5 separate regions of the Homo sapiens genome follow, and all the other regions are linked to region 5. Evidence: fine-mapped expression QTL. A gene starts in region 5. Each other region holds a variant in brackets. All regions are shown on one strand. Distances are between the middles of the regions. Region 1 overlaps SUPT3H (SPT3 homolog, SAGA and STAGA complex component). Region 2 overlaps SUPT3H (SPT3 homolog, SAGA and STAGA complex component). Region 3 overlaps SUPT3H (SPT3 homolog, SAGA and STAGA complex component). Region 4 overlaps LOC101929770 (a long non-coding RNA gene). Region 5 holds the start of SUPT3H (SPT3 homolog, SAGA and STAGA complex component).

Evidence for each region. PIP is the estimated chance that this variant, and not a neighbour inherited with it, causes the effect.
Region 1: its variant is fine-mapped to the expression of SUPT3H in whole blood (INTERVAL, PIP above 0.99).
Region 2: its variant is fine-mapped to the expression of SUPT3H in whole blood (INTERVAL, PIP 0.99).
Region 3: its variant is fine-mapped to the expression of SUPT3H in prefrontal cortex (CommonMind, PIP 0.95).
Region 4: its variant is fine-mapped to the expression of SUPT3H in whole blood (TOPMed, PIP above 0.99).

The regions. Positions count from the first base shown.
Region 1 is chr6:45,110,299-45,116,762 of GRCh38, reverse strand. The region is part of intron 2 of SUPT3H (SPT3 homolog, SAGA and STAGA complex component); the gene reads left to right. Among named protein-coding and RNA genes, the nearest start is that of MIR586, 84 kb to the left of the region's middle. The variant AC/C (reference allele first, on the strand shown) is at 3,658.
Region 2 is chr6:44,844,204-44,850,667 of GRCh38, reverse strand. All of the region lies in intron 10 of SUPT3H (SPT3 homolog, SAGA and STAGA complex component), which reads left to right. Among named protein-coding and RNA genes, the nearest start is that of MIR586, 350 kb to the left of the region's middle. The variant AT/T (reference allele first, on the strand shown) is at 3,178.
Region 3 is chr6:45,342,915-45,349,378 of GRCh38, reverse strand. All of the region lies in intron 2 of SUPT3H (SPT3 homolog, SAGA and STAGA complex component), which reads left to right. All of the region lies in intron 2 of RUNX2 (RUNX family transcription factor 2), which reads right to left. Among named protein-coding and RNA genes, the nearest start is that of RUNX2, 18 kb to the right of the region's middle. The variant G/AG (reference allele first, on the strand shown) is at 2,812.
Region 4 is chr6:44,781,971-44,788,434 of GRCh38, reverse strand. The region is part of intron 2 of LOC101929770 (a long non-coding RNA gene); the gene reads right to left. Among named protein-coding and RNA genes, the nearest start is that of MIR4642, 350 kb to the right of the region's middle. The variant T/G (reference allele first, on the strand shown) is at 3,736.
Region 5 is chr6:45,374,665-45,381,128 of GRCh38, reverse strand. SUPT3H (SPT3 homolog, SAGA and STAGA complex component) reads left to right here and starts at 3,195. Exons shown (of 11, transcript NM_003599.4): 1 at 3,195-3,361. The region is part of intron 2 of RUNX2 (RUNX family transcription factor 2); the gene reads right to left. RefSeq lists silencers at 2,904-2,953, 3,274-3,553 and an enhancer at 2,720-3,263.

The sequences.
Region 1 (6,464 bases), 260 kb after region 5:
TTTAAACAACTGGATTTTATGGTATGTAAATGATATCTCAATAAAGCTGTTTAAAACAGATGCTGTTTAGCAAAAACAAAACAAAACCAGACCTTTAAAGTAAGCTTTCTTCATACTTTTGAAGACCTGTCATGTAAAAGGATTTGTCATTTCATCAGTTCCAGGGGACAAAGCTAATCCCAGCATATGGAAATTAATTTTTAAAAACCCAGAATTTCACTTACTGGAACAAATATCTCTCCAAGATGCAGAGGGACAGGCATAGTGATAGTGTGTTGCAGGGTCTTTAAGAGGTTTAAATGACATATATAAATATACCTGGCACTTAATACATGCTTACTGTTTAAAGAAAAATTAATACAGATAAAGATACAAGTGTATGTGTGTATAATTTTTAAGAGAGAGAGAGAAACGTGCGCAGTTGTGCTAAAATGTTAATAATTGGTGATTCTAGGTGAAGGATTTACAGGTGTTCATTCCACTGTTATTTCAGCTTTTCTGTTGGTTAGGAATCTTTCAAAATAAAATGTGAGAAGAAGGAGAGGAAGGGAGGCTAGGCTGACTAGTTTGTGAGGGCAAACTTCCTTAAATGCTGTGAAAAATAACGAGCCTGTCATTCAGTATCTGAAATAAAAACAGAAAACTTGATTTATTTCTTCTTATCATAAAGGAGAGATACATGCCGGTCAAGCACAGTTTGTTAGCAAGGAAGGCTGCTGATCTTTTGGGTTTTCAGGAAGCATTGAGTTCAGGGATTGGTCGTGTTCTGGAGTTGACATAATCTATAATAAGAGAGATGAGAATGTTGTTGATTGGTTGGCACTCAAGGGTGTGTTTACTGGAATGAGTCTGTTCCTGGTTCTGGTGGCTGTTTATTGCCATGGCTACAGAAAATCAGTCATGTCTTTAAGTTTGTGGGAACTTTGAAAATTCTCAGCTAGTATAATATTCAGTGCCTGACATGATGTAGACCCAGTATTCAATAAATATTCGTTGAATGTAAGTGCATTTTTAAAAAGCTCACAATGTTTGCCATTATCACCACCATCATCATGTCATTGTTAGAAACTGAAGAACTTGGCTTTGGAGTTCTAAAATCTTAGGTTGCATTTTATTTGGAATCCTCTCACTAAAGTCCTTAAGTTATTTTGGAAGTTGTTTTGTTTGTTTGTTTAAATCAGTGTTTCCTAATTTTTTTTCAATGCTATGTAACTCCATGGGCTTAGAAAAGGATTATATACACAGTAAATACGTTTAAAATCAAGAGTTTCTTTTCTTCAGAACCTCTCAGAGTGTTTAGTATGGTAACATGTATTGCAAATCTAGAAAAGAATAAAATATGTCATTTTCCAAGCTCATTTAACTACAAAATACTTTTTCTTCTGGACACTGTCAATCTGAAAAATGTTGTTGCAGTATGCCATATTTATATCCATTTTATATTGATAATTTTCTAAAGATCTGATGGTACAAAATTCTCTTATCTCTGTGACTATCTCATACCAAGTAATCTTGACGCTTACTGTTGCTGACTCCCCGGGTAAATGTCTTAACTTTCTTGACTCTCTCTGATTCCATGTTTATGTAACATGGGAGAAACTTTCCTGTTTGCATGCTTTACAGTTTGCTTTAAATGATAGGTGAGAAAAGTCCTCTATGACTATGAGGTGTTATTGTGATTACAGTGTATCTGTTTTCAATGTTATAGGAAGTTAGTTTTTTGACTAAATTTCAGTCAATCTAAGATAGTAAAGTCCATTAAATGTTTTGGAGGCTTAATAGATGTTCATTTAGCGTGTTGTTGTACAATGAGTTCTGGATGAGGTAAAAGTCCTAGTTTTACTTCTAACTGGACTTATGACCTTGAGATGGCTATTTAACCTCTTGGGCTTTCATTTTTCATCTGTTTAAAACTGAATGAAAGGACTACGTAATCTTTTAGATTATTTTTTGACCTAACATTCAATGATTGCTATATAGATCTTTCCTGTTCCTCAAATAGGGACGGTTTATAATAATTTGCTTTATGCTGCTATCTATTAAGAGTTTGAAGATGGGAATATTTGCTTCTTAGAAATGTAGGATATATGAGGAAAAATGCCCTGTAAATTGTTAGAAGAAATTCATAAAGATATTCTGCTAGTTTTGTAAACTTTCTCAGATGCACATTTTCATGCACTGTAGATGAGTTTTATTTTATGAGCTTTCTTATAAATATTTATGGATGAGCTTTCTTATGTAAATCTTGATTTTTAAAAAAATTTTCTGATTTATATATTTTTTCTATTTAAAGCTATTTCTTTCACACATCAGATCTTAATAAATACATGTTTTAATATTTCACACTGCCCATTGCATACATTTCGTGATTCTGTTCTAAGTTTTTTTCTCTCATCTTTCTAACATACAAATTATTTATTTAGTAATTCATTAGTTATATTGTTTATTGTCCTTTCCTCATCGGAATGTAAACTTGACTCATTTTTTTGTCTGTTTTGTTCACTGATATGTTCCAAGGAACCAGAACAGTGCCTGGCACATACCAGGCAATCAGTCAATATTTGTTGATTGAGTGATTAATACTTGTAGGTATTATGTGTTTACCTTTTCAAAATTTTATACTGTTTTATCTTTTATTTTAAACATATATGTATATTAGTATATTTGTATTTTTTTACGTCAGCATTATTTATTTTATATCATAAATAATTTAATTTTGCTTTTTATATATCTTCACATATTTATATTTATTTCATGGTGTTTTGTAAAATTCTAAAAGTTTTCTCAAAGTTCAGTTAAATTATATGAATGTTTACTATCAGAAGGGGAATGGGGAAATGGTTGTTGAGAAATCAAGCAAGCAATGAGAAAAATCATCACTGCTAGGAAATCTGTTGTCTTAGATGTTTATTTGATTTTTTTTTTTTTTTTTTTTGATGGAGTCTTGCTCTGTCGCCCAGGCTGGAGTGCAATGGCTCAATCTCGGCTCACCGCAACCTCTGCCTCCCAGGCTCAGGCGACTCTCCTGCCTCAACCTCCCAAGTAGCTGGGGTTACAGGCATGCGCCACCATGCCATGCCTAGCTAATTTTGTATTTTTAGTAGAGATGGGGTTTCACCATGTTGGCCAGTCTGGTCTGGAACTCCTGACCTCAGGTGATCTACCCACCTTGGCCTCCCAAAGTGCTGGGGTTGAGCCACCACGCCCAGCCTTATTTGATATTTTGATTTACCTATCACTTGGGGTTTCTTAGAGCTATTGTTAATAAAATTCATTTCTTCCTTTGAAAACAGGTGGGTAAAATCATAGATTTGTGAAAGAGCTGTTAAAATTTGAAGAGCAAGGCTAATTTGTAGTGTTTATAACTTTCCAATTGCATTAAATGACTGATCACGGCCAAACTTCTGCACTTTTATTCCCCACTTTGGATAGTGGACAAATCAGTGTCAACAGATATTGGGTAAGAATGACATAAACAACAGTATGATGTCTGTGTTCACATACATCATCTAGTACTAGTTTAGCTGACTAAAGTGTATGGTAGGGCTGTAGCCTGGTATTCACTCTAATTCCATTTAGGAGAAATTCTTGGGTATTATAGTAATACCTAGTCTATAAAAGTGTAATCAAAAAATGCTTTGAACGGAAAAAAAAAAA[AC/C]CTTTCTTTTGGGGACAGCAAGTTACCCAGAGCCTTCTTAAACCAAGCAATAGTCACACAGTGTCCATTCTAAAGTAATGTCAATTACCTGGGGTAGGAAAACATCCAAAAAAACCAGAACTAATTAAAAAAAAAAAAAAAAGTGACTAGCTCCCAAGACCACAGCAATTACTTAACCAGAGTATCCAGAATGATTTAACCACATTAGAGTCTGTAGCCAGTGGGAAGTATTGAAAGCAACTCAGCATCCAAGAAGATGTACACATGGCAGTAAAGAAACATCTCTTTATCCTTTCTTTATGTTTGGTTTCTAGATGCTTTATGAGTAGATCTGCTTGTAGGCCTTGTATGCTTGGTGACTGGCCCAGCAGGCTGTCCACAGATCATCACCAAACTTATCCCCTTTGCTTCTTTTTCAGAATCTCTTTAATTAAAACTTAATCAGCCCTTCCCCTCTGTTAGAAACTTAATCAGCACTTCCCCTCTAAATCAGCCCTTCTCCTCTGTTAGAAACTTAATCAGTCCTTCCCCTCTGTTAGAAACTTAATCAGTCCTTCCCCTCTATTCTTAATCAGGGCTTGGAAATTTAAAAACAAGTATTTTAGACTCAAAGTTAGGCCTGTTAAATTCTTTTAATTGAAAAAGAATAATGTAAAATTCCGTGATAATATGTTCAACACCCCCCACCTTTTTTTTTAAATTTAAGGAACAATGACATGTTTCTTAGAAATTATTTCCACATATAAGGCCAGGGATAAACTATAGCTTTCTTTTCCTTCCTCTAATTATTTTTATTTATTTATTTCGTTCTGTTACTCATTTTTAACATGTTTTTCTTTTTCTTAATTTCATGATTTTCCCACAGTTTACTCTGTGCAATTTGATTTTCTCATAACAGTGTTGCCCCATTCTTGAAGACAGTCTTTAAGATTTACGAATTATAGTTGAATCAGATATATTTGATTCAAAATAAAGTTTCTGAAAAGGTTTCTTTAAAATTATCTAATCTAGTCCCCTCCTTTTACTGCTGAGAAACTGAGGTGCCAGGAGAAGTTACCTGCTCATTGCAGTACTTCTTAATAGCATAGTGGGAACTAGAACCAGATCCTCTAACTTCCAGGATATTTTCATGGTTACTGACTTTTCCTACTTTGTAGCTGACGGCCAGAATATAGTATGACTTCTAGCAGCATTATTGTAATCTTTTTAGTTGGATACAAGCCCTGTGAACTTCATCCATTTTTCTGAGCTCAAATCTCTGGCTGGTCATTTAGTTTGGTGCTATTTCTTTCCCTGAGTGGGGGTGGGGGGGCCGTGACTACAGTGAGATGTCAGCTGGGCACCTACTCATCCACTGACTCTCATGAACTTCATCCTCAACATCAGAGAATAGAAAAGCATTATCTTCAGATGAAGGAATAAATTTCCCATATGCTATTTGTTTCTGTTTTGAGACTTTAGAACTGAAATAATAAGGGTAATTGTTTGAAAGGAAAAATACAAGTTTTATTTATTGTTAATTCATTCCCTTAACAAATGAAACTGTTTTCTTGCTTGTTTTTTTTGCGGGGGGGAGGGAGGGGGGAATGTATGCCATGACCTTCTAGTACTAATTAGACTGATTTACTTGGTAGGGAACACTTTGGAAAACCCCTCAATCCCAGGCAAACTAGGGTGATTGGTCATGCTGATAACAATAATGTATATATGTTAGTGAATGCAAAAAGATTTTCTAACACCAATAAATAAAATATATTTTTAAAAATACCATTTTGGCTGGGGGCAGTGGATCAAGCCTATAATCATAGCACTTTGGGAGGCTGAGGTGGGCAGATCACGAGGTCAGGAGTTCGAGACCAGCCTGGCCAACATGGTGAAACCCTGTCTCTACTAAAAATACAAAAACTAGCTGGGCATGGTGGCGGGCGCCTGTAATCCCAGCTACTCAGGAGGCTGAGGCAGGACAGTTGCTTGAAGCCGGGAGGTGGAGGTTGCAGTGAGCGAAGGTCGCGCCACTGCACTCCAGCCTGGGTGACAGAGTGAGACTCTGTCTCAAAAAAAAAAAAAAAAAGTATCGTTTGTTTTATTTCTTACCTCCTTTGATATTTCTCTTTTGTGTTTATTTTATGCTGTTTTGTTATTATATTAATTTGTATAACTTGAAAAGAAATACACACACACATATGTACACACATTACATATACTTTCTCAAAAAGTATTTATTTTCCCCTTACAGTTTATGCCATTAAAAGAGTTTGGAGTTGACTGCCTTTCACAGCTGGGGATATGTAGATGTGAGGAGAATAGGTCAATTGATACATCATCAAATACATGCATTTACATAGGGTCCAGAGGTTAGCAAAAGATTTTAGCAAATGAAATGATGCTTTAGAATTTATAGAGAGATTAAAAGAGTATTGCTATATTTGGGTAGCATCTTGGCATAGATTACTAACCAAAGATGTCACATGTGGATTCAACATAAGATAGTAAAGCTCCTTCATTTTTAAGAAATCTTTCTCCTTTTTTTTTTTTAAAAAAAGCTGATGTTAGAAAGCACTGAAAAGGGGTTCTGTTGTTTTTTGAGAGCAAAATGACTAGACGTTTATTGTATATTTTAATAGATGTCTATTTGAAGGATCTCCCCTAATTTTAGATAGTATTGGGCTATACATAGCGCAAAAATGTTAAAAGTGTTAGTCATAAATTCTGCTGTCTTTTTAAAACAGTATCCAATGGTTTTGTTCAGCATTCATCCTCCTGGATCCCAGTATAAGTATACAGAATAAAAAGTTTAACTTCATCT
Region 2 (6,464 bases), 530 kb after region 5:
AGTTCAGTATTTCAGTCATAAACTTCCAAGACTCCTTTCTATTTGAGAATGTTTTTGTCTTGCTAACCACAGAGAACAGTTGGAGTGAGTGGATCATTTTATTTTGATTGCTTCTCCTGCACTGGCCCTGAGGGACAGACTTGATGATCTAATAAGTCTTTTCCATCTCTAATATCTATAATTTTGGCTATTCTGTGGCAGCTTCTTATTGCTTTAAATAAGCCATCTTAATTCAAAAAACATACATCTGGATTTGACCTGCCTAATATATGTCAAGAAGAGTGTGTCCCTTTAAAGCCCCACCAGGGAATTTCTGAGAGACTAAAGAAACTGAAAGGAAGCAGGAAAAAAAAGGTTAGGGGGAAGTGGAGGGGAACTGTGATTCAAACAATTTTCTGTTTATTTTATTTAAGTTTTTATTTTTCAATAAGGAGATTGTCCCTTAGGCCTCCTTAAATCATTTATTGGTTAAAATTTAATCTGATCATTAGTGCATTCTTACATTAGTAGCATTTTAAAATTGTTGATTCTTTTTCTTGGAAGTTATTCTACCATTAACTAGCATTTTGTTTCACAGATTTTAGTCATCATCTCTGACCAGTTCTTGGCCTCATATCCACTCTGCAACTCCTCAGACTTGAATGTCTGAAGAGGAAGTGGTATCTATGCATTGCTCCAAATGTCAGCCAGTGGTGGTCCTCAGGCCAGGTGTCCTGGGGGCATTATTACAAATACATAGTAACTGTCTTCTCCCCAGCTAAATACATTGCCAACAGTATGAATTCGCTTTTATAAATGTATAAATATATTGCCTCTACAGTTGTACTCAGGCCATACATCTGGTTGATCTGCTGGAATAGCTATCCTTTATTTTTCCTGCCCAGTGATTTTAATTCAATGTGTAGGTCTTGTAAGCTGTTTTTGGTTAATATTTTCTCCTGCACATATTTAGTTATTTCCTGAGATTATTGTTCCAGACAGAAGAATAGAGGACTATGTCTGTGTCTCTTTTTGTCCATCAGTCTGTCCTTGTCTTCCTGCAAGACTAATTCAGCCTAAATGCTTAGTTACTTTTTCTGACCCTTTCTCCAGATCCTCATGATTATAGGCAGATCAAACTAGAATAAAAATTAGTATTCATGGCCGGGCGCGGTGGCTCACGCCTGTAATCCCAGCACTTTGGGAGGCCGAGGCGGGCGGATCACGAGGTCAGGAGATCGAGACCATCCCGGCTAAAATGGTGAAACCCCGTCTCTACTAAAAAATACAAAAAATTAGCCGGGCGTAGTGGCGGGCGCCTGTAGTCCCAGCTACTTGGGAGGCTGAGGCAGGAGAATGGCGTGAACCCGGGAGGCGGAGCTTGCAGTGAGCCGAGATCCCGCCACTGCACTCCAGCCTGGGCGACAGAGCGAGACTCCGTCTCAAAAAAAAAAAAAAAAAAAAAAAAGTATTCATTTGTAGTGCTTATATCTACAGCTATGCCCTATAGAAAAGTCATATACATGGCAAGAAACAAGTGGAAGTTTGTAAATTTATTCAACAAATATTTGTTGGCCATATGTTATATTCTAGGCACTTCATGAAATTACGTTAAACTGCTCCCATGTATGGTACCCAGTGCTTCAGCTATGACTTAGCCTATAATGTCACATTGGAGTTGAAATTAAAGTTATAAGGTAGTGTTTTTATCAGTTGTTTATTTAGACTAAAATGCCTTTAAAAAGAAAGTCGTCTCTTATTCACTTCTGATTTCCTTCAAAGGAAGGTTGGGGGGAATGAAGTAGTAGGAAGTGTAGTAGGTTAAATGTTAGATGTCATTGTTTCGAGTCCTGAGTCTGTCATTGAACCACGAAATTTAGAAAAATCATTTAACCTTTTTGAGCCACAGTTTCTCATCTAAAATGGGCATAGTAATCCCCCCTGCTTTCCAGAATTACAGTTAGGTTCACATGAGAGAATGCTTGTAGAAGTACCTTGCCTATCTCTATAATATCTATTGGTCTGTAATAGAAAAGACTCTCTTATAATTGTAAGTCAGCTCACAGGAAAACCTTCATTAGAAAAGGACAGTTGCAGAGATCCACACAACAAATGTACACAGACTATTACTCTAATACTGTTCTTATCACAAGAATAAAGACAACAGAGATTTAAAACTAGGAATGAACCTGACAAATAAGGTTTTGATTTTTCTCCCTAGCCTAGTGGTTCTCTGCCCTGGCTGAACTTTGGAATTGATGCCTGGGGCCTGTCACCAGAAATTAATTGGTGCCAGTGGGTCTCAGGATATTTAAAAGTTCCCCAAGTGGCTCTAATGTACAACCAGCCAGTGTTGAGAAAAGTCACCGTGCTAGAGAAATCAATAAAAGACCTCCAGAAGTCTAGTTATGAAGACACAGGCTGGGTACAGTGGCTCACTCCTGTAATCCTAGCACTTTGGGAGGCTGAGACAGGTGGATCACTTGAGGATAGGAGTTCGAGACCAGCCTGGCCAACATGGTGAAACCCCGTCTCTACTAAAAATACAAAAAAAAATTAGCTGAGTGTGGTGGCACACACCTGTAATTCCAGCTACTCAGGAGGCTGAGGCAGGAGAATCACTTGAACCACAAGACAGAGGTTGCAGTGAGTCAAGATCATGCCACTGCACTCCAGCCTGGATAACAGAGCCAGACTCCATCTCAAAAAAAAAAAAAAAAAAAAAAAAAAGACACAGAGATAACTGTCAACACTAGAAGAAAATATTTCTGTAATGAATGGTAAAGAAAATTAGTGGAATCCATACATCTCCAACAATAGTCTATAGTAGCTTAGGTTGACATCTCACCAGTGACAAGAGCAGGAGAAGAAAAGACAGAGCATTTAAAAAATCTTCCCATAGGCTGGGTGTGGTGGCTCACGCCTGTAATCCCAGCACTTTGGGAGGCCAAGGCAGGTGGATCACCCGAGGTCAGGAGTTCGAGACCAGCCTGGCCAACATAGCGAAACCCCATCTCTACTAAAAATACAAAAATTAGCTGGGCATGGTGGCACATGCCTGTAGTCCCAGCTACTCAGAAGGCTGAGGCAGGAGAATCACTTGAACCCGGGAGGCGGAGGTTGTAGTGAGCCAAGATTGTGCCACTGCACTCCAGCCTGGGTGACAGAGCAAGACTCTGTCTCAAAAAAAAAAAAAAA[AT/T]CTTCCCATAACTGTTTAAGTTTCCATTTAAAAATTAGTATTCAACCAGTAATATGATAGCTATAGAATGAGTCAAGTGGCGATAGGTATACGTAAACACAAGTGTAAGTGCTGTTTTCACAATTCTTGTTCCCTGTAGTAAATATTTAAGTAACAGCTAATCTGTGTTGTTATAACCAATCATGGCTGATTCCATGAAATGTGTAGACACTTTGATTGTGACCAGACTTGTAGTCTCAGGTCATTTCTATGCCTAACAAAATAACTGTATCAGCAATTGGAAAAGTATATAGTAGCTAGCACAGTCCCAAACTAAAATACAAGAAAAAAAATATTAGTCTTTCATTGTGATGCTAAGGGTCCAGTTCTCAGAGCATTGTCCTGATTTGTGCCCAAGGATTCAATCTCATCCTTAATATCAATTACTGAAAACAGAAAAATCACATTTATGTGTTTTCCAGTTTAAACACAGAAAAAGCCAAGAAAGTCAAACGGTAAGCCTTAAAAACTCCATCCCTGATGTGGAAATTGTTTTAGTCTTCAAAAAACTTTTCAACTGGGGCTGGGTACAGTGCCTCACGCCTGTAATCCCAGCACTTTGGGAGGCTAAGGCGGAGAGATCACCTGAGGTCAAGAGTTTGAGACCAGCCTGTCCAGCAGAGAAACCCCGTCTCTACCAAAAATACAAAAATGAGCCAGATGTGGTGGCAGATGCCTGTAATCCCAGCTACTCAGAAAGCTGAGGCAGGAGAATTGCTTGAACCCAGGAGGCGGAGGTTGCAGTGAGCCAGTATTGCGCCACTGCACTCCAGCCTGAGCGACAGAGGGAGACTCTGTCTCAAAAAGAAAAAAAAAAAAATTCAATTGGGAAAGACAAAAATGTTCAGAAAGCTCAGCCCTCCCCTGTTCTCTCCAAAGACCCTTCTCAGTTTCCTGCAATATAGACATCTATCCTGGTCTTACCTCCTTTTTCCCACTCCTTCCCTTCTAAAACCTCCCTTGTTTCTTCTGTAGTCTGGTGCACATGCTTTATTGAAGGGCTCTGAGGTTCCTCCCTTCAACTGTAAGGTTGTCTGGTGTCTGAACTACCTTTGAGCCTCTTGTCACTATCTGTGTGGTTAGCTTGTTGAAATATGCGTAAGTGTAACTCTTGAAGAGATTAGTAAATCGAACTGTTGGTATCCTTAACTAGCCTTTTGCATTAAGTTGAGGAAAAGTTCATGATTGACAAGCCTAAAGTTACAGAGCAGAGTGAGTGCAAAGTTGGAAGGCAAAGTGATGAAAAGGACAAAGGATCAGGGATGGTACTGAAATGGGAAAAATTCCCTTCTCCCCCTCACAGGGCATGCAGTGGGGGTGTGGCTCGCTTGTTCAGTGCCCCACTGCCCATACCTCTAGGGGAGCATAAAGACGGGCAGGCTGTGGGCTCTGACCCCATGGCAGTGTCTAGGGGTGAACGTTTACAGCTGAAGCCCCAGTGGGCGTGTGTTACAGGGTGCTCTTTTAGTTTAGCCGTCCATAGGCAGCTTGTGTTAGTCAGCTCAATTAGACCCCTGCCTTATCGCAAGGACAGAGGGCTTTCTGTATCCCAGGGTTCTTGCCTTGGTGTACCGGAAAAATCAGATCACACATGGGCTTGGAGAATGAGCACAAGGTTTTATTGAGTGGAAGTAGCTCTCAGCAGATAGGGGAGCCAGAAGGGAGATATTTTCCCCTGGTGTCGGGTTGCTCAGTGGCCTGGGCTCATGCCAGCGAGCTCCCCTCAACGTCCTCTTGACATCCAGCCTCTTGTGTCTTCTTCTGCCAGTGTGTTCCTCTTGATGTCCAGCCGCTTGTGTGTGTGCCCACTAGGGTCTCAGGTTTTTATAGGCACAGGATCGGGGCGTGGTGGACCAGGGTGGTCTTGGGAAATGCAACATTTGGGCAGAAGTGCCTGTCCTCACCTAGGTCTGTGGGTACAGGCCCTAGGGTGGAGCCCTCACCAGGGACCCACCCTTCTCTTCCCAGCACTTCTTTGCCCCTCTTCCATACCAGTACCAAAACAGTTTTTGAAAGCCTGCTACTTCATATACCTTTATCAAGGAGCAGTTCTTCAGAATTAGAATTCAAGCCCTCCATAGAGAAATGCCATTTCAGAGCTGTCTAGTGATTGGTATATCACTTCACAATGATAGCTTATGAATGGATGGCTTAGATGTACTCCTGTGAGTCCCAGGAGACCCTGTTTTATGCCTCACGTATCTGTTTTTCTCCCACTCAGTTTCTACCCCAGTGTCTGGTACTAGTAAGCATTCAATAAATGTTTGCCAAAATGAATGGAATTTATTGTATAATTATATACACAGTTTACCTTGGTCTTAAGGAACTCTAGTCATATAATTTTTCTATTCAACTGGGACTTTCTAATGAACATGTAGTGTGCTGCCATGTAGAAAACTAACAACTTGGAAACTTACTAAGTGCTGTGTTTCATTTCTAGTACTGTTCAAGTCCAAACAAGTACATCCTGCCTGTGATGTACAAATCCTGACCATCTCCAACAAAAGCATTATTGTGGGGGGGGTTTTGTTGTTTTATTTTACTGAGTTATAATTTGCATACAATAAAATTCATTCTTTTAAAATATATAGTTTGATGATTTTGACAAATGTATATAGCCATAAAACCACCATCACAATTAAAATATTAGAGCATTTCCATTGCTGCAAAAAAGATGTCCTGACATCTCATTATAGTCAGTCCTCTACCCCTACCATCCATAGCTCTGTCAATCACTGATGTGTTTTCTGACCCTATAATTTTCCCATTTGTAATATGTCATACAAATGCAAATTGTATATATGTACCCCTTTGAGTCTGACTTCTTTTCATTTAGCATAATGCATTTGAAGTTCATCTGTGTTATTGCATATATCAATAATACATTCCTTTTTTATTGCTGAAGAGTGTTCCCTTCTATGGGTGTACCGCATTTGGTTTCTTTGTAGTGGACATTTGGGATATTTCCAGTTTTGAGCAATTAGGAATAAAGTTTACATAAAAATATATAAATGTTCACCTATAAAACATGGACATGTTTTCATTTCTCTTGAGTTGGTAATTTTGACATAGTCTGATTTATCGATCTTTTTTTTACAGATAAGTATGTTAGCTAAGAAAGCTTTGCTTATAAGGGCACAAAAATTTTGTCCTATTTCTTCTAGAATTTTTATGGTTACTTGTGTTTGGGTCTGTGATTCATTTTCAGTTAATATTTGTACATGGTATGGGGTAAGAATCGAGGTTC
Region 3 (6,464 bases), 32 kb after region 5:
ATCATAGCCGTAGCAGATGGTGACTTAAAGAAAACTCAGCAGGTAAACTGAAAGCCAAGAAAGAACCCACATTTTTCTTAATCCTTATTTTAGTGGACTCATTAAATGGAAGATTGTGGGACAAAATATAGAGAATTATTGTGATTCCATAATTGTGACTTTAAATATGTAGAAGTAGACTGAAATACTAGCGATATTCTTTTTTCCCCCTCTAGTGTAGTTGTCCCTAGAAGAACTAAATTGAAATTTAAATACCCCATTTGTATTATAGGCAGTAACATTTATAATCAGGATCCCACTGATTTACGTAATGACAGAATTTAATGATACCAGTGGAAAGATTATAAACCTCTTTCCACTCATAAATTCATTTATTCAACATTTACTAAGTACATGTGGTGTGCCATGAACTGTGTATACATTTGTGGAAATAAATAATTATAAATTGTGATAAGGACTCTGAAGGAAAATGTACAGGATACTATGAGATAGTGTAATGGGGGAACTAAAGCCTCTCAAAGAGAGTTCATTTAAGCTGAAACATGAAGGATCGATAGGAATTTTGGTTACACAGAGTTGTGGGAAGAGGAAATATCACTTCCATCACTAAATAGGTAATGTGCACTAACATCTTCCTATATATTATTTCATTTAATGCCTTGTTAGTTGAATGATATTATTGCCAATTTTTTTTTTTTTTTTTTGAGTTGGAGTTTTACTTTGTCACCCAGGCTGGAGTGCAGTGGTGGGATCTTGGCTCACTGCAACCTCCACCTCCCGGATTCAAGTGATTCTCCTGCCTCAGTCTCCTGAGTAGCTGGGACTACAGGCATGCGCCACCATACCTGGATAACTTTTTTTTTTTTGTATTTTTAGTAGAGACGGGGTTTCACTGTGTTGGTCAGTCTGGTCTGGAACTCTAGACCTCAAGTGAGCCTTCTACCTCGGCCTCCCAAAGTGCTGGGATTACAGGCGTGAGCCACCGTGCCTGGCTATTGCCAAATTTTAGATTAAGAAAATGAGGAGACGATAAAACTAATGGTAGAGAATTTTTTTTTAGAATTTAGAATTTCTTTAATAGAAATTAAATAGCTTTCCAGAGTCATCCAGCTATTCAGTGGTAGAACTGGGATTAGATTTGGTCTTTCTGACTCCAGAGTCAGACTTTTAACTGCTATGTTATATTAGATTTAAACTTATTTTCTTAATTATTAAATAATGTAAGTATGCCCCTTTTTTCTCATTTCTATGGAAATGAGAAAGGTGCTGCTTTTAACGTAAAAACTATAAGCTAGACATAAGCAGGCCATTTAGAGGGATACATACACATATCCACATATCCACACATGTGTACACATGCATACATACCTATTTATATAACTTTAAACTTTCTCTGATTGTAAAAGTAATGCATTTGTTTGAGATTTTGGAATCTCTAGAACCAAGGAGGGAAATAATTTTTTCATTCACAGGTAACCATACTGACATTCTGTTTCATTATTTCAGTAGGCATGTAGTATTTTTTAAAAATAGTAATTACAATGTGAATACAGAATTATTCTCTGATAAATAGACAAACAGTGTTTTAATGAAATATACGTCTTTTTTTTTTAAAAAAAAGAATTGTGAAGTTCTTTTTTGGATGTAGAAAAATAAAGTATTTGGATTTCACTCTTCTATTTAAAGGGAATAATCTCACAGGATTATGTTTCTTTTATTTAAAATTTTTTTCTCTGTCATGTGCATATTCCCTTGCTTTTGCAGACAGACCCCAAGAATGCTGGGGAATTTAAAAATATATGGAATGTAAGCCTTGCTGCATTTATGTTTATTAACCAGTTTAAAAAATATATTAAAGGTCAGATTTTGTTTTTCTCAAACTTAACATCTTGCCTATAATGATACATGGATATTCCTTTTGGGTTCATTATGTGCCATAGTGATTTATGTTGAGGTATTTCTTTTGTGTACATCTACCACCAAAAGATTTTAAATACAATTGCAGAACTTTACATTTGTAACTTGAGAAAGAAGGAAATACATCTTAAAATCAGAACACTGTTCCCTAACAGTCATATATATATCAGTGAAATCGAATTCATTTTAAAGAAATTTAATTATTCACTGTAGTTTAATTTACTATATCTCTTAATTCTAAGGTGTTGAATATAAATTAAATTTAGATGTTAGCCAGATATCCCATTATTTCACTTATCTTAATATGATACATGTAAATAATTCTTTAGTCTTAGCTTCTTTCTTTGATAGTAAACTCACACATATTTGTGGGGTATTTTTATTTAAAATGTGTTCAATTTTTAATTATATAAAGTACCACCTCTCTTTTCAGCCATGTAAGTTATTTTTAAGGCATTTTCTTTTCTTATATAGTATTTCTTTAGCTGTTACCACGTCCCTTTGCTAAGTCCTCCTACTTTTTGTTTAGGCACTTGTTTATTTGTCCATCCACTTCCACCTAATGTTTCATTAATTCATTTAAGAAATGTTTATTGAGGCCCGGCGCGATGGCTCACGCCTATAATCCTAGCACTTTGGGGGGCCAAGGTGGGCGAATCACCTGAGGTCAAGTTTGAGACCAGCCTGACCAACATGGTGAAACTGGGTCTCTACTAAAAAAATATAAAAATTAGCCAGGCATGGTGGCCTGCACCTGTAATCCCAGCTAGTCAGGCAGAGGCAAGAGAATTGCTTGAACCCAGGAGGTGGAGGTTGCAGTGAGCCGAGATCGCACCACTGCACTTTGGCCTGGGCAATAGAGTGAGACCCTATCTCAAGAAAAAAAAAAAAAAA[G/AG]AAATGTTTATTGAATTCCTATTATATGCCAGGCATTTGGCTAGATGATGTGAAAAGAAAGTAAGAGTGGGAGAGAGGGAATTCTTGTGTATCTGTGCTACCAAGAGAGTGTGTAGTTTAGTGTACTGTATTGTATCTCTGTGCTTAATGAAGTTGCCTGTGGGGCTGCTCAGGAGGGCATGCGAGGTTCTAGCTACCCTCTCACCCTTCTTCGTTTCAACCCTGTAGACTCCTTTAAAAATCTATTTTATTTATTGGGCTTTCTCATAGCATTTCCTATGAACAATGGATTTTGCAATTTAAAAACTTCAGTATCACCTGTCTAGTAGAATTATATATATTTACATATATACATAAGTAGAGTGAGAATCTTACACACATAGAAACTGAGAGAATGACAGGTGGTAGATGCAGGTAAGTATGTGAAAAGAGTTACAGATATGCTACTATAGGAATATGGAGGTGGATCAGAGAGTTTTCAATTTGGAGGATGAAAGCCAGTGAAAATAGTGTCGTTTGAGATTTTTCTTCAAGGATAGGCAATATTTAGCCCTGTAGAGATTTGTAGGTAGGGTGACAGTGAGGATAGGTAGGGAATATTGCAAGTACGGGAGACAGCATGATCAAAGACACAGAGGCAGGGATGAGGCATTTGGAGCAAATAGCTTACTGTGTCTAGAGAGAAACTGGGTCATAGAAAATACAGATAAAACATGATTAGTATCAAAATGTGGCAAGCTTTGGCAGACTGAGGAGTTAAGTCTTTTTCAAAGACAATTGGAAACCTTTGAAAAATGTTTGAAAGATAAAGGTACGGTGTGCATTGATACTCATTAAGAAGAATTGATAATGCATCATGTAAAATGAGTTGGCTGTGGAAAGACCTATTGTAGTAGTCCATGTAAGAGGGAATGGGAATGAAGAATAGCAAGCAAGTGTAAGTGATATTGCATAGGTTAGATTGTTAGGTCTTGGGGATTTATGAGATTAGAGAATTAGTTACCAAAAATGATTCCAAGGTTTCTATCTTAGAGGACTAGCAAGCTGATCGTGCCATTAAGCTGCAGGTTTGAGCGTTGGTTTATCATTTGTATCCTGGTTGAGGAGTCTATCATAATTATTTATAATACTAAAGGATTAAAAAATGGAAATTGAGATGAAGCCTGAAAGGAATAGAGATACAAAATTAATCTAGAAGGTAAAAGTCTGCAGAGATGCATATAATAAAGTCCCTCTGGTTGCTGAGATGGGGCAAAAGTTTTACTGTCAACCTCATAGCAAATAGGAAAACATGTCATTTGAGCATGACATTTTACAGTCTTTAACAATCAAGTGAACAGAAGTTTTATTTATAATACTAAATTGTAATAGCTTATCTTTGATATTTTTATAAAGTGTCAAAGATTTTTATAAGTATTCTGACATCTTGTATTAATATCTCATTTAAATCTCAAAACATCCATGTGAGGCAGCGCAGATGAGTGGGTAGTTTCTCCTCTGTTTCATCCCATGAGGAACGTTTTAATGTACAGCCTTTTTGTTACATAAATCAGTTTGCTAAATTCTGATTCAGCTAGGTGAAACAGATTTCTAAACTCACCAGAATGAAGCTTGGCTTCAGAGCATAGTCCATGGCAACTACTAAACTATCCTGCTTGTAAAGAGTCCCTTAAACTTCAGGGATTTAAAAATTCTGTACCATTAGTTTTACCGTCTCCCTTGTCATAGTCTGAATCTTGGCTTACTGCATTTTTAACTTCTGAAGTGGCCTTCTTTTTTAGGTCCACCAAGTATATTTCTCTTTTGTCTTAAAGGCAGACTCACCTTTCATATTTAGGATTTTTTTTCTCTAGGCTTTCCTAGCCAACCATGAAGAGCTAGTTTATACACTTTACCTAAAAAGTTAACATGCTTTTGACATTCCTGATTTTTAATGGGTTTTAAATTTGTGGTAGGCATAGCTTTTTGTGGCCTCTTAATAGTTTTTGTTGTGCATATCGTAAAGCAGTTAAGTACTTAATTGATAATGTTACTGTTCTAGACGTTCAAAGGAAAATGTACATATATGGGCTCTCCACTGGATATTTAGAATCTAAGGCACTGCTCATTTGGACATGAATGAAAAAAAAAACCATCAGAGAATGAAAACAATAAAGCACTGCATGAATGGGCAACAAAGTACATTGTTTATAGCTAAGGGCAAGTCAGTTTTAAGGGTGGAGAGCAAAAATAAGTATACAGACAAGGGGAAGTTTAGGCCAAGTATAAATGAAGTGGTTCCCAACTGTATAAGAAATAAGATTGAAAATTCTGGTTCAAGTAGTCTAAGAAACCCCTGCAGAGGAGCTAAACTTCTAGGAACTTTGTCATGGTCTAACTCTTTGTATACTACTAAGTATTTAGTGGATGTTCTTTCTCTTTGTCATATCCACTTCATATCAACTTTTATCTCTCCGAATAAAAGGAATTTGAATTGCTCTTTAGTTTGACAATTTTTCATATATACAATTGTCTCATATTTTCTGTTTTATTCAATTAGTAGTCATGGAGAGGAAAAAAGACAGGAATAGGCACCTGTGATTGTAAAATATTTTACCAGTAAACAACTAGTATAGAATATCAAGGGCAACTGGTTATAAAATGAAAGCCTGTAGACCTGTCAGGTGGAGGTCTTTGATGGCTAAGATTCTAATATGGGTTATTAAAAGCATGATTTTAAGCACCTAGAAGGTGAGTAGTTGGAGCCAAATGGTTTTCCTCAGCAGTAGTCATGCCTCACAAACTTCTGTGTTACATCAGAGCTACTGGATAGCTGTCTCAGGAACATGGGACAGAGACACCATTTTTAAACTTCATCAAGGCTTTTCACAAGCTTGTGGTGAGACATCATTGACAACATGAAGAAATATAGACTAGTAGCTAGTTCGTACTGTTATGCAACTTAATAATTTGCAGAATGTCTCAAATTATTGAAGGCATTTTTTACAAGAGAGAGTTATGTACATAGGACCTTCTCTCTTAATCAGTCATTGTGGGTAAACTGAGGGGTGTATGAATGTGAAAATTCTATTCAGGTTTGAAAAGCTGCCTTTTGGAGGTGCAATTATTATAGATTAGATGATCTCTGTTAGTCTCTCGAGTCCTTCAGAATTAAGAGTAAACTACCAGGTGCTCTTCACTCAGTATCAGAACTCTGAAACAGATCAAGTGAACAACTTTAGGGACCTTTAGTAGAGAAGGGGTTTCACCATGTTGGCCAGGATGGTCTTGATCTTCTTGGTCTGCCCGCCTCGGCCTCCCAAAGTGCTGGGATTACAGGTGTGAGCCACTGCACCCGGCTGAGATTCTGCATTTTTAACAAGCTTTCAGGTCATGCTGATTCTGCTGTTTTGTGAGCCACACTATGAGTATGAGTTTAGACTTAAGATGATTTAAGGTTTGGAAAGTTGATTATATTTAATAATTGTAATGCTTTTGTCAGATCAGTGTAGACACTTTACATTTTATTTAACTGGAAACTTTCAAGGTAGGTGGTAATATTTTTACAGATGAGGAAATTGAGACACAGGGAGCTTAAATGTTGGTTGCTCAGGGTTATGTACTAGGCGCTATAACTGGAATTTAAACTTAACACCAAAACCCCTGCTGTCCTT
Region 4 (6,464 bases), 590 kb after region 5:
GGTGACATAGAGTTGGCGGGAGCCTGAGAAGATGGGAATAGAGGTGAAATAGGCCATGGGTTAGGGTCAAGGATGTGGAATGGGGCTTGTGGAAAGGAGGAGATGGAGCCCTTCATAAAATCCTGGGTGGCACCAGACGACAGAAAACAGCCTGGGGCCGGAGCTAGCTCTCTGTCCTTGACAGAGCCTTCCTCACCCACAAGCAAGGCCTCAGGCCCTCCACAAAGAGTCTCACCTCTGGGACTCAAAGTGCTTCAGTTGTTACAGCAGACTCCGCTCAAGCTGTTCTCCCCATTCCTCACCGCGTCCTTTGACGCGGGTCAGCAGTGGCTGGTGTGGCACATCTCGGGATTAGACAGCCTCCCCGATCCTCCTCTACTTGGGTAGTAGAGGTAGTGTGAAGGCATTCTGATGCCACCTGAAGGCTCACCTGGTCTTGTTTAAATGTCTCAGTGCTTGGATGTGAGGACACAGGAACCACTGGTGGGAATGGGCACAGGCACAGTCGCACTGCAAAGAAATCTGGCAATATTTAAAGAAAACCAAGTATGGGGTTCTCCAAGCTCAAGCAATCCTTTTTACACAGTTTGGTAAGGGGATATGTACAGAAATGTTTGTGTGGTATTACTTTGGTGATGGAGAGTTAAGAGAATCCCAAATGTTAACCTCTAGGGGAGTGGATAAGAAAAATGAGGGGCACGCATACCATATCAGAACTCAGGACTGCAGCTAAGAGCAACGCACGGGCCAGGACACTGTACATGCTTACCTCAGAGAGTAAGGAAGGACCGAGATGAGTGACAGCCTTCCCACTTAAGAAGTCAGAAAAAGAACCACTCAGCCCACAGGAAGAAGAAAGCAGGAAATAAAACTTAAGGTAGAAGTTAAGGAACCAGAAAATAGATAACAGAATCAACAAAGTCAAAAGCGGGTTCTTAGAAAAGGTAAACCTCGGCAAGATGAATCAAGAAAAAAAGGGCGCTAAAGCGCTCCATTTTAGGAATGAAAAATGGAACATGACCCACACATCCTGTAGAGATTAACAGATAATAAGAGGATACTATGAACAACTTTATGTCTGTAAATTTAAAAATTCAGATAAAATGAAATAGATAAATTCTTAGAAAAATACAAGTTGCCAAAAGTGACTCAAGCAAAAATAAAGAACCAGGGTAATCTTATAAGTACTAAGGAAATTAAATTACTAGTTTAAAATAGCAGTAAAAAGACAACCACAGTCCAAAAGGCTTTACAGTAACTTCTATAAATCATTTAAAGAATTGATCATTCCAATACAAATAAAATAATGGAATAAGAGCAATTTATTCTCCCATCTCCAATTTACCGAGGAGACTAAAAAGAGATCAATGCAAATGACAGCATAGTACAAGCAAAAATATTACAGGACAATCTCACTCCAAACATTCTGAACAAAAGATTAGCAAACAAATATTTTATTAGAAATAAATTTTAAAACAATACATCCTGGCCAAGTTAGAATCTATTAATTATATAATTATATTAACAATTAATAAATCATTACATTAATGTTATATTAAAGGAGGAAAACCCTTATGATCATCTCATTGCTTTTTAAAGCAATGAATTCCTTATAAAGCATTAGGTAAAATTCAAAAATTGACAATGGGAAAACAAAAGCTTTTTGCAAACTAGGATCCGAAGACCTGTTCTTGAATCTGATCAAGAATATCCACAAAGAACCTGCAGCAAACGCATTCCCTGAAATCGCAGAAGCCCTCCCTTTGTGATGGCAGAAACATGGGGCTGTCCCTTTCTACTCCTGTTCAATGCTGTCCAGCCATCTCCACAGGACACATAAAGAAATGTCAGGATTGGAAAGAAACAAAATTACCATTATTTGCAGATGATTTGGTTTTCCATTTAGAAAACTCAAAATAATCTTGAGATAAATATTAGAGTTAATAAAATAGACTTTAAAAGTGATATTATAGCAAAAACCACAACTACTTTTGCACCAACCTAATACGTAAGCTGATTCCCTTTCTATATTCCAGTAAAAACAGCTAGACAATGTAATAAAACACTGCACTTAGAATAGCAACAAAAATATATCCAGAAATAAATCTACCAAAGATGTGAAAGTCCTCTACAGATAAAGTTATAAACATGTATTAAGAGATACAAAAAAGACCTAATTAAGATGACTGTACTTAAATAGGAAGACTCTAGATCCTGAAGTTGTCAATATTCTCCTCAGTTGATGCACAGTCAATGCAAGTGCAAGCAAAATCTCATTACGTGTGTGTATATGACAGTGGTGGCAGGGGGACAGCAACTAAACAAGGTGGTTCTAAAAATTTATATGGAAGAACAAAAGTCAAAAATAACTTAAAGATGAAAAACAAAATGGAGGGACTTGTCCTACCAAATATCAAAACTTTCAATAAAGCTATAAAAATGAAGACAGTGCGGTATTAGCACAAGAAGAGACGAAGAGACCTGTGGAAGAGAATAATCAACCCAGGACCAAACCCAATACAAAACAGGCATTGCAGGGTGGACTGATCAATATAACTAAGACAATGTGTTATCTATGTGAGATAAAAATAAACTTAGAGCCTTACCTCACACTCTACATTAAAAAAAAACACCAACTTTGGGTGGGTTAAAAACCTGTGAAAGGCAAAAGTTTACATCTTTCAGAAGACAATGGGAGAGGCTATCTCTATGATCTCAGAGCCAGGAAGGAATTATTTAACAAGACAGGTAAATGCAAACTATATAGGATCATACTGACAAACTTGACTATATTAAAATTAACTTAAAGAGCTGATATCATGCAACAGTAAGAAGCAATGAGCTAAATGAACATATAATCACATGGATAGTCCTCAAAACACAGTGCTGAGTAAAAAAATATGAAGCAGAACAAAAATTATAGCATATTTCTGTTTATGCAAATTAAAAACATGTATACACAAAACAGTACATATTTTACAAAGATACAAACAAATTTAAGGATATCCAAATCATTCCAATGCATTAGGGTGAATATTCAGAATAAATAAGAACGTGAGTCAGAGAGAAGGGGGAAATGGAATAAAATGCAACAAGAGAAGGGCTTGCCCAGGCTAGTGAAGACAGTGTACTACCAACTAGGGAGTACAATTACCTCTACTCTGCTCCTCAAGTTCAACAGAAAAAACAAAACAAGCAAATAAAACAAACAAAGATTGCCAATGTTACCTCAACCATGAATATCTCAACTTTGGATTTAAGGCTGTTTAACTTTGGATTTAAGGCTGTTTCATTCTTTTTTTTCCTGATATCCATGACGATTTCACAAAATGCCCCAAAATTCCATTAGGAAGTAAACATGTCTTGAACAAGCACCACTTTATAATTATTAGGTGTTTTAGGTTGAGTTTCTTAGAAGCAGAACCTGAGGCAAGAATTCTGTGTATAAATGTTTTATTGAGGGAGTGAATAAAGCAGGATAGGACAAGGGAAGAAGATAGGCAAAGAAATGGGTTCAGAGGAAGTCTAGTCTGTCTGATCCCGTGGGGAGCTCTGAAGTATGAATTACCACCTAAAATGTATGCCACTTACACAAAAGGATACCAGCCTCTTATATCCCACTATCAGTCAGGGGTACAACAGTCACACTTAGGGGCACTTGTAAGTGACATGAGTCTGAGTAGGAGGGCATCTTTGAGGCAGGCTATCCCAGTCTACCCTCTAGCCTTCCAAAAT[T/G]CACTTCCCTCCCACATGCAAAATACACTTCCCCCTTTCCAAGTTTCCCAAAAGTCTCATACCATTATGGCTTCAGATCAAAGTTCAGAATCCCTTCATCTAAATGAGGTCTAGGTGCTCATGGGGTTCCTTTGAGGGTAGTTCCTTAAGCAAGCTCCTTGAATACGCTACTTTTGATTTTAAAACCTTCAAACTAGACAGACAAGTTATCCCTTCCTCCCCCAACACTTGATGTTGGAACATGGATAGGATAATTTCTACAGGAATTCCTGTTCAAAAGCAGGGGAAATGGGAGGTACAAAGGAGTCACTGGCCCATAGCAATTCTGAAATCTCATGGGGGCAAATTCCCTGATTAGGAATCAGTCTTACTTCTGATTGAGTCAAAAGCCAGAGAACAATTCTCCTTGGATTTTGACTCTAACATCCAGGCTCTTAGTTCCAGCCCCTGTGCTCTTGATTTCCCCTTGTGAGTCATTCTTTTTTTCTTTATTTTTGTTTTTTGTCTCACCCTGATTCCTGCCAGAATTTTGTGGTCCAAAGGCCTTTATTTATTTTGTACTAATTCTGTCCCTTTCAGTACAAGCCGGATATGTTTTTGTGATTATTATCTAAAAACTTGTAGCTTTCCTATGAATGTCATTGGGGGTTTTCTCCATTAGACAAAAGCCACATACATATAAATCTCTTTGAGATAAGCCCTTCTCTACCCTGGGCTTCTACTGCAATCAGTTAGCTTTACTCTTAAGCTTCTTAGAAACTTTAGCACCTTTTGTCTATCTGAATGGTACTCTAAGGCATCTCTTAGATCTTTTCTGAAATCTTAACAATGAATTTTACAGCCACAGCCTCAGCTTTATTTTTGGACCATGTTTTCCCAGCAGTGCCCTTGATTTGATCTTTAGTTAAAAGATATTTCTTAATTTTTAGCATCATTTGGCATCTAGAGATGTTAGGAAGTGTCTAAATCACAAGTCCTTACTCCTCTTAGCTTATCTCCCTCCTGTCGCATTTTAGTAGAAGCATCATGAATCAGGTGAAACTTCTAACACTCTAGCTGGAAATATCCTTACTAGATCACACAGTTCATTAGGTGCATTTTCTATTTCCACATGACTCTAGGTGACACTTTTGCTACCCTTTCTGCCACTAGGTATTCAGGATTTCCCTTTATCCAGCTTCCAGTAACATGTTCCTTTGTTCCTGTTAGGGCCTATCAGCAGCCTTCTCATCCAGACTGTTCAAGGCACTTCAGGCTTTCAGCAGCACTCTCTTTAATGTCCTTCCAGCTTCCATTTACCTCCTGGTTCCAAAGCCACTTCAACTTCTGTAGGTATTTGTTATGGCAACCCCCTCTTGCAGATACCAAAAACCTGTATTCTTGATTGTCATGTAACAAATTAACCCCAAAACATTTATTATGACACAGTATCTGTGGTTCAGAAATTCAGGGGCAGTTTAGCTGAGAGGTTCTTACTTGGGGCCTCTCATGTAGCTATAGTCAGAATGTTGGCAGGAGCCGAAGTCACTAAAAGGCTTGACTGAAGCTGGATGGCTCCCACACATGGGAGTTAGCAGGAGGCTCAGTTCCTCACCAAATGGCCCTCTCTACAGGCTATTTGAGTGTCGTGACAACATGACATCTAACTTCCCCAAGAGCGAGTAATACAAGAGAAAGACTAACTATGTTTTAACAAGAATCACTCTGGTTGCTGTGTGGAGAATAGACTGCAGGAGGGCAAGGGTAGAAATGGAGAACTTACTAAGAAGCTAATAAGATGATGTAGGCAAGAAATGATGGTGGCTTGAACAAGAGAGGAGCAATGGAGATGGTAAGATCCTGAATATATGTTGATATTTTGAAGGCAGAGCTGGCAAGATGTACTGCTAGATTGTAGATGGAGTCTGAGAGAAGGACCATGGAGATCAACCAGGTTTTGACCTGAGCGAACTGGAGGAATGAGATCACCATTCACTGAGGCAGCCACCCTCCATATGATTTAGGAACCTTTATTATCTATATTTCAGAGGTGAGGAAAGTGAAATTTTGAGTGCTTAAGTAACTTGCCAAAGGTATCCCAGATGGTAGGTGACATAGCTGGTTCTTAGTGATGTAGTGTACTGGTTATTAACTACTGTACACTACTGTCTACTGAGCCAGGAATATTACTAGATGGATCACTTGCCAACATACTTTGTTAAAGCAACTGGCAGATGTCTGTGTGCTTCCAGATGACTTGCTCAGCAGTAGGGGCAGGGCATCAAGGGAATACACATCCCTACATTCACATGTGTGTGGCCACAGTGCTCACTGCCCATGCCACCCTGGCCAGGGTCTGGTGCTGAATGTGAGCCATGCTAATGTGGAAGCTTCCAAACATGCACTCCGCACTCCAGAGAGAAGGCAAGGTCAGGGGAATCTTGCCCCCCACATGCCACCAGGCTGCCTGCTTTCCAGCCAGTAACTGTTGGTACTTTAGGAATTCACTGCTAGGGTCAGCTCTTTAGTGCAAACCTGCTACGGGCTCTTTGTTAGATGATGCCAAGGGCAGGAGCCTGAAACATTAAGCCAGGGCCCCTGGGACATTCATTTCTGCAGTTATCCATATGTGGACTGACAAGGGAGGCAGCATTTAGCATTGTTTGCAGTCTGGATTCCTTCATGAGCAATTGGATTTTCTATTTCTTCTCTAATTCAGTTTCTACCCTCACTGACTAAGCTACATCCCA
Region 5 (6,464 bases):
AGAAAACAAATATAGCAACAATTGCAATATACGGTTCTAAACAATATGCAATCTACCCAGTTTATTTCCATGGTGACAACTTAAGCATTAAAAATAGAAGGCAAATATAGCAAAGGATGAAATAATTGATAAATAGAAAATAAAAAGTCCCCACAAACATCCTAGCAAGTAAGAGTTATGAATCTCAAACAACAAAGAATTTCCAAGTCACCTGAACTGTCACTGTAGCATCCACATGAGAAGAAACCACTTCTGGCCGGGTGCGGTGGCTGACACCTGTAATCCCAGCACTTTGGGAGGCCGAGGCAGGCAGATCACAAGGTCAGGAGTTTGAGACCAGCCTGACCAACATGGTGAAACCCCGTCTCTATTAAAAATACAAAAATTACCCGGGCGTGGTGGCACACGCCTGTAATCCCAGCTACTCAGGAGGCTGAGGCAGAAGAATCGCTTGAATTGGGGAAGAGGAAGTTGCAGTGAGCCGAGATCGGGCCACTGCACTCCAGCCTGGGTGACAGAGCGAGACTCTGTCTCAAAAAATAATAATAAAAAGAAACCACTTCCATGGAATCAGAGAGATGGTTCCATATTAGCCATGACTTCTGCTGCTCTTTTGAGAATGTGGGCTTACTACCTAATCATTTTAAGATGCCCATGGGCACTTTTACTTAGATACATGCACTTTCTCTTTGCACTAGTGAGTCTACGTGAATATTACATGCCAGAGGAACGTTAAAGTCTACGCTAACAATGCTTCATTTTTCTTTAACAATTTTGTCCAGGTCATGGAGACATTTTTGTGGAGTGATAAATTAACTTGGTCTCCTGATGTGTTTTCCCCACATGCCTTGGAAAATCACTTGTTTTTCTGAGAGGTGGTAGTCATCAAAGCCTTAACTTCAGCAACAGCTTCGCTGTTTTAGCTTTGTTATAATTAAGATACCCTAGTACCATTGATAGTTTAGGATATTTGATATGAATGTAATGCAAAAATATTTTTGGCCCTTTGTATATAGCAATGGTCTCAAACTATGAGCAAAATTATGGCTAAATCAGATTTTCAAAAATGGATTTTAAGAAATTCCAGGAGGTAGGAACCTGGTTAACTCATGTGACTTTAAAAATCAGATCTCTGCCAACAGCCCAATTCAGTTTCCTAAGAATAAATTTTTAAACTTCCTGTATCAATGCCTTAACTCAGTTTCCCTTCTCCATGTGTCACTCTCATTAACTTTTGTTGTGCGTGATTTTTTTTTTTCTTTTTTTGACGGAGTCTAGTTCTGTTGCCAGGCTGGAGAGCAGCGGCGTGATCTCGGCTCCCTGCAACCTCCGCCTCCCAGGTTCAAGCGATTCTCCTGCCTCAGCCTCCCGAGTAGCTGGGACTACAGGCACGTGCCACCACGCCCGGATACTTTTTTGTATTTTTAGTAGAGACGGGGTTTCATCATGTTGGCCAGGATGGTTTCGATCTCCTGACCTTGTGATCTGCCCGTCTCGGCCTCCCAAAGTGCTGGGATTACAGGCGTGAGCCACCGCGCCTGGCCTGTGTGTGATTTTATGCAGGCTGGACACCAGTATCCTAGAATAAGATGATCTGGATTCTATCCTGATAAACTGGATCAAACAGGTACTCATCTGATGCAGGTGAAACTCCAGTGCAGGAACTTCTATGATAACATTAACTGAACATAATTTTAATTGAAATGATCTACTTTTATGTTTCTTTAGATGTGAACATTAATTTTTCTCTTAATCTTCTGTTAACTAATTTCTTGGTAATGTACTCAAAAGAGCTTTCAACCAGTCTTCCCATGTAAGAAGTTATCACCATACTCACTCTGTTACTTTCCCTTATACTGCACACTTTGCTCAGCAATGAATTGATCCCTGATTTACACATCAAGCTGAGCTCTCACATCCTAAATATATCTATTCTTTTGGAATTTTAGGTATTTGGCAAATATTGAAGCGTTGGGGAGATTAAAGAGAATCAAACACAACACTAGCAGACTCAACTACAATCCACAGAGGAAATAACCAAATAAGTTGCTATTTTAAACAATTTAAGCAAATAGAAGGAAGGGATTTCAGAACTCACAGTATCTATAGGCAAGAAAATAACTGAAGCAGTGATGCTTAAAAAGACTTGGTGAGGGTTAATACTTGAATCCCTATAAAATACAGTATTTTATAGTATTTGACAACACAGGTGTGAAGGTGAGCATGGATAACCAGTTTTCTTCTCTAAGCAGGCAATAAGAATGTTAAATATAAATAAGACTTCATATAATATAAAGAGTGAAAGACTGAAAGCATTGTCTTACGACTACTGTATTATTTAAAGAACTACATCTATATCAATTAAATGTGGCAGGACAGAATGTACAGTACAATACTGGGGGTGCAAGATTTTAAAATGAGGAACAGGCCAAAATCTAAACACAGAATCGTCCAAAAAAAAAAAAAAGCCTTCAAGTAGAAAAAGTTTTCAATAACAAAACATGGTAGTTAAACGCCTGCGTCTAGTAACATGAGTTGGGGAAAAAACATTAATAGCAGATTAATGAAACAGATTCTGTGCGAGGTCAGGGTAGGGAGTGATGGCGCGCGGAAGCGGCGTAAGAGCTGGTTTCGCCGTCCCAGAAAGGGTTCCACATCCACACGCCTGTACTGCGGCCCTGCGGGGAGCGTTCAGACCCCTCCGTTTCCCTTCACCATTGTAAACGCGCAATCCCATTAAGATCCCGTTCACTCCAATTCCTGGAAAGAAGCTTAGAACGGTGAATCTCTTCCTCGGAGTTGAAAATCAACTTCCAGTGCCGGTCACCCAATCCTTCAAAAATCCTAGCCCTCTCGGGCCCAATTCCTAAAGAATTCAAGCCTGCACCCTGTACACCCTGACCGATCTCAGCTCGTCCCCACTCCGCTCCCAGCGTCCCCAGCTCTAAACGCCGCCGCGTGGCTCAGCGCTGCCCAAGCCGGGCCCTGAAGGCCGCGCACAACGCCCCGCCCCCGGCGAGCGTGGCGGAAGTAGCTCGCTCGGGCTGGGAGAGCGCGCGCCACCTGGCCAAGCGCGCATGCGCCCGCACTGCCAGTGCGGGGGGCGTCCGTATCGCTTACTCCTCAGTCTCCGCAACCCCCGCCCCACCGAGAGTCGGGCTCACGCCATCTTGTACCCCCCCCATCGCCCCGTCACACAGCCGAGTCACCTTTTCCCTTTCTACACTCCACACTCTCAGTCCCCCACCCCGCCCCTTTCCAAGCGTGTCCCGGGCCGCAGCAGCAGAAACCGCACCATCTCCACCCCCACATTCTCCTCGCGGGAAGCGCAGCAGTGCCTCCAAGGGTTCTTAAAGCAGAGGTTGTAGGGCTTGCGGGGGGCGGTGCGGGGATTCGGGCGGGGGAGACGTCAGAGAGCCGGGAGGGACGCAGAGCGGAGATCCCAGCGTCGCTGGGCCCCCGCGCCGGCCACGCCCTGGCCCCGGCTCGAGGGCGGCTGCCTGGGTCTTCGTGGTCTACGCCGGAGTGTTGAAGGGAGGGCGGCTGTGGGAGGCGCTGGCCGGGCGCAGCGCCCTGGTTCCGCTGCCGAGCGTGGAGTTGCCTCTCGACTCCTCCCTTTTGGCGGGTGGGCGTGGGGTGAGGGGGGCTGGGCTGTGCTGAGAAGCGGGGTGCGCGGGTCGTCTAGGTAGTGTGGGGGCTGCCGGAGGAATCATTAAAGAGGGAAATTGTTGCTTTATGGCACGGCGAGAGAAGAGTTAGGTAGTTAGTGGGAGTGTAGCATCCAGAAAGAGGAAAAGATCCGCTGTGTTCTCTGTGGGGTGAGCTCACGTCTGTGACCCCTGGGGAAATTATTTAGCTTGTCTTTGCCTTGTTTTGGTCTGTAAAATGGCGATCTTATAGCCTATTTCAGAATTGTGAGGATTATATGAGAAAATACACGTTAAACGCTTAGAACAGCGCCAGGTGCTGCTCAGTACATATTAGCTCTGCTTTTGCTCTCCACGTTTTAGGAGTTCAGAATGACTGTGACCTTATTTTCTCAGAGAATCAGGACACTTGGTCTCACACGTGAGAGTGAAGTTATGAAGACAGTGATATGTAATATTTGACACTCAGACGATCCTGGACGTAGTATTACTGTACACGTGGATAAATTAGCATTTCTCCAAGAGGCTAATAGAAATGTTAAGTTATTTCGGTAGAAAGAAATGTGTGTGTATATATATGTATATACATATGTGTGTATATAAGTATATGTATGTGTATATATGTATGTATGTATTTGGAAGGAGAGGACCTGGGGTCTTAGTATATGTGAAGGGCAGACTCTGGAAGAGGAATTAAATTCGCCCTGCAAAGATTTACTTGAAGGACAAAACTTGGGGAATTTCTGGTGAATGTTTCAAAGAGGCTGAATTTGCCTATGAGAAACAGTTCGTGAGAGTACTTTGCAAGAATGGAATGCTCTTCATTGTGCTATGGAAAGTTTCTTATCTCAGGATATTCGGGACGTTGGAGCGAAGTATGCCTAAGTCTAGGGCTGCACTTTTCACTAGCAGTTTCTGCCTTGATGGAGATGTTCCATAATCTGTGCCTTTAGGCACTAGTGGTAGCCTAGGCACAGTGGCTCTTCAGCACTTGAAATGTGATAAGTGTCACTGAGGAACTTAATTTTTAATTTTATTCATAAATTAATAAATTGATTTACGTTTAAATACCCACATGTGGCTAGTGGTAGCTACTGCATTGGACAGCACAGGGCTACAATTTAGATTTTGAGAGTCCTTCCGAGTCTTGATATGGTTGAGTTTTAAATCAGATAAGCCAGCTCTTTGGAACATTTATTGCCATAGGGAATTGTAATTATATTCAAATAATGCCTTTCATTCAAATACTGCAGTTCAGACCATGGGTCTGTTAGTACTTATTTACATCTTGACAAATTAAAGCAAAACGTTGTCTCCTAGGTTGTACAGCTAATGCCAGATTCAGAGAGCTATGACAGTATTAACTGGAGTTTTCTTTAAACATTATTGTACTATTTTGTGATTGTCGGTTTCTGCTATCTTTTACCACTTTGGTTGGTTTTTCAGTGAGAAGTTTCCAGCTCTTATTCAAGTTTTTTTCTTTTTTAACCTTTTGTGTAATAAAGCGATTTGAAAAATTGTAACTCTTGAGCATTAGGACATTTTAGAACTAGTTTTATGGTTATCCAAATCTTTTGGAGAGATAAGTGAAATTAGGTAATAGATGTTTCACAAAATTACTTTACTTGAAATATGTGCATCTGTTTTTTTTTTTTAAAGCAAGTGTATATAAAGTCAAATTTGAAAATAAAACTAAAAGAACAAATAAAAAACCTTTATAGGTAGCGGTAGCACCCTTAACCTTGGCCTGATGTCTGTAAAATGGTGCCCTTGGGCCAGGCACGTTGGCTCATGCTTGTAATCCCAGCACTTTGGGAGGCTGAGGCCAGAGGATCTCTTGAACCTAGGAGTTCAAGGCTGCAGTGAATCATGGTCAGGCCAGGCTTCCAGCCTGGGCTGCAGAGGGAGACCTTGTCTCTTTAAAAAAAAAAATGATGCTCTTGGTCTTAAGGCTGAAGATAATTGTTAGATCTGGAGCAATAACTTAAAGCTCACGAGTTAAATCAGATGGAGAGAATAGCTCATAATATACAAATCAGAATGGGGTGCTTTTATGGGTGACTATAGTATCTTAATTTTTCTGAGACAGTCGTAGTATAAAGCCTGATTGTTCCAGCACAATTATTTTATTTAATAGAACCCCTTTCACTATCAAAATGTTCGAATTGGGACCACATCATAATGTCACCCTACTGTTAGCCTTGTTGGGACTTGTAATATATAGTTTTAGGATGATTAACCACATTGCAATATCAGAAATACTTTATTATTTTTGAGATGGAGTTTCACTCTTGTTGCCCAGATTGGAGTACAATGGTGCGATCTCAGCTCACTGCAACCTCCCCCTCCTGGGTTCAAGCGATTCTCCTGCCTCAGCCTCCCGAGTAGCTGGGATTACAGGCACATGCCAGCATGCCTGGCTAATTTTTGTATTTTTTGTAGAGACAGAGTTTCACTATGTTGGCCAGGCTGGTTTTGAACTCTTGATCTCAAGTGCTCCACCCGCCTCAGCCTCCCAAAGTTCTGGGATTACAGGTGTGAGCCACCGTGCCCGGCCAGAAATATACTTTAAAACAGTGACAAAATTACTGTTTTTGTGTCTAAATAATAAATAAGATACCTGGAATAAGGCCAGCAAGTGACTTTCCCATTTAAGCCACTGATAATTTTAAAATTTTGCTTTGAATATAAACCTTTAGCAGCTTGAGTTTTGGTTCCCTCTGGAAGAAAATCATCTTTTGGTGGGGGTGACTGCATGGTAGTCTATGTCAGTCAAATCAGGTGATTGAGTATTTGTGTTGAAATAACACTGATTTT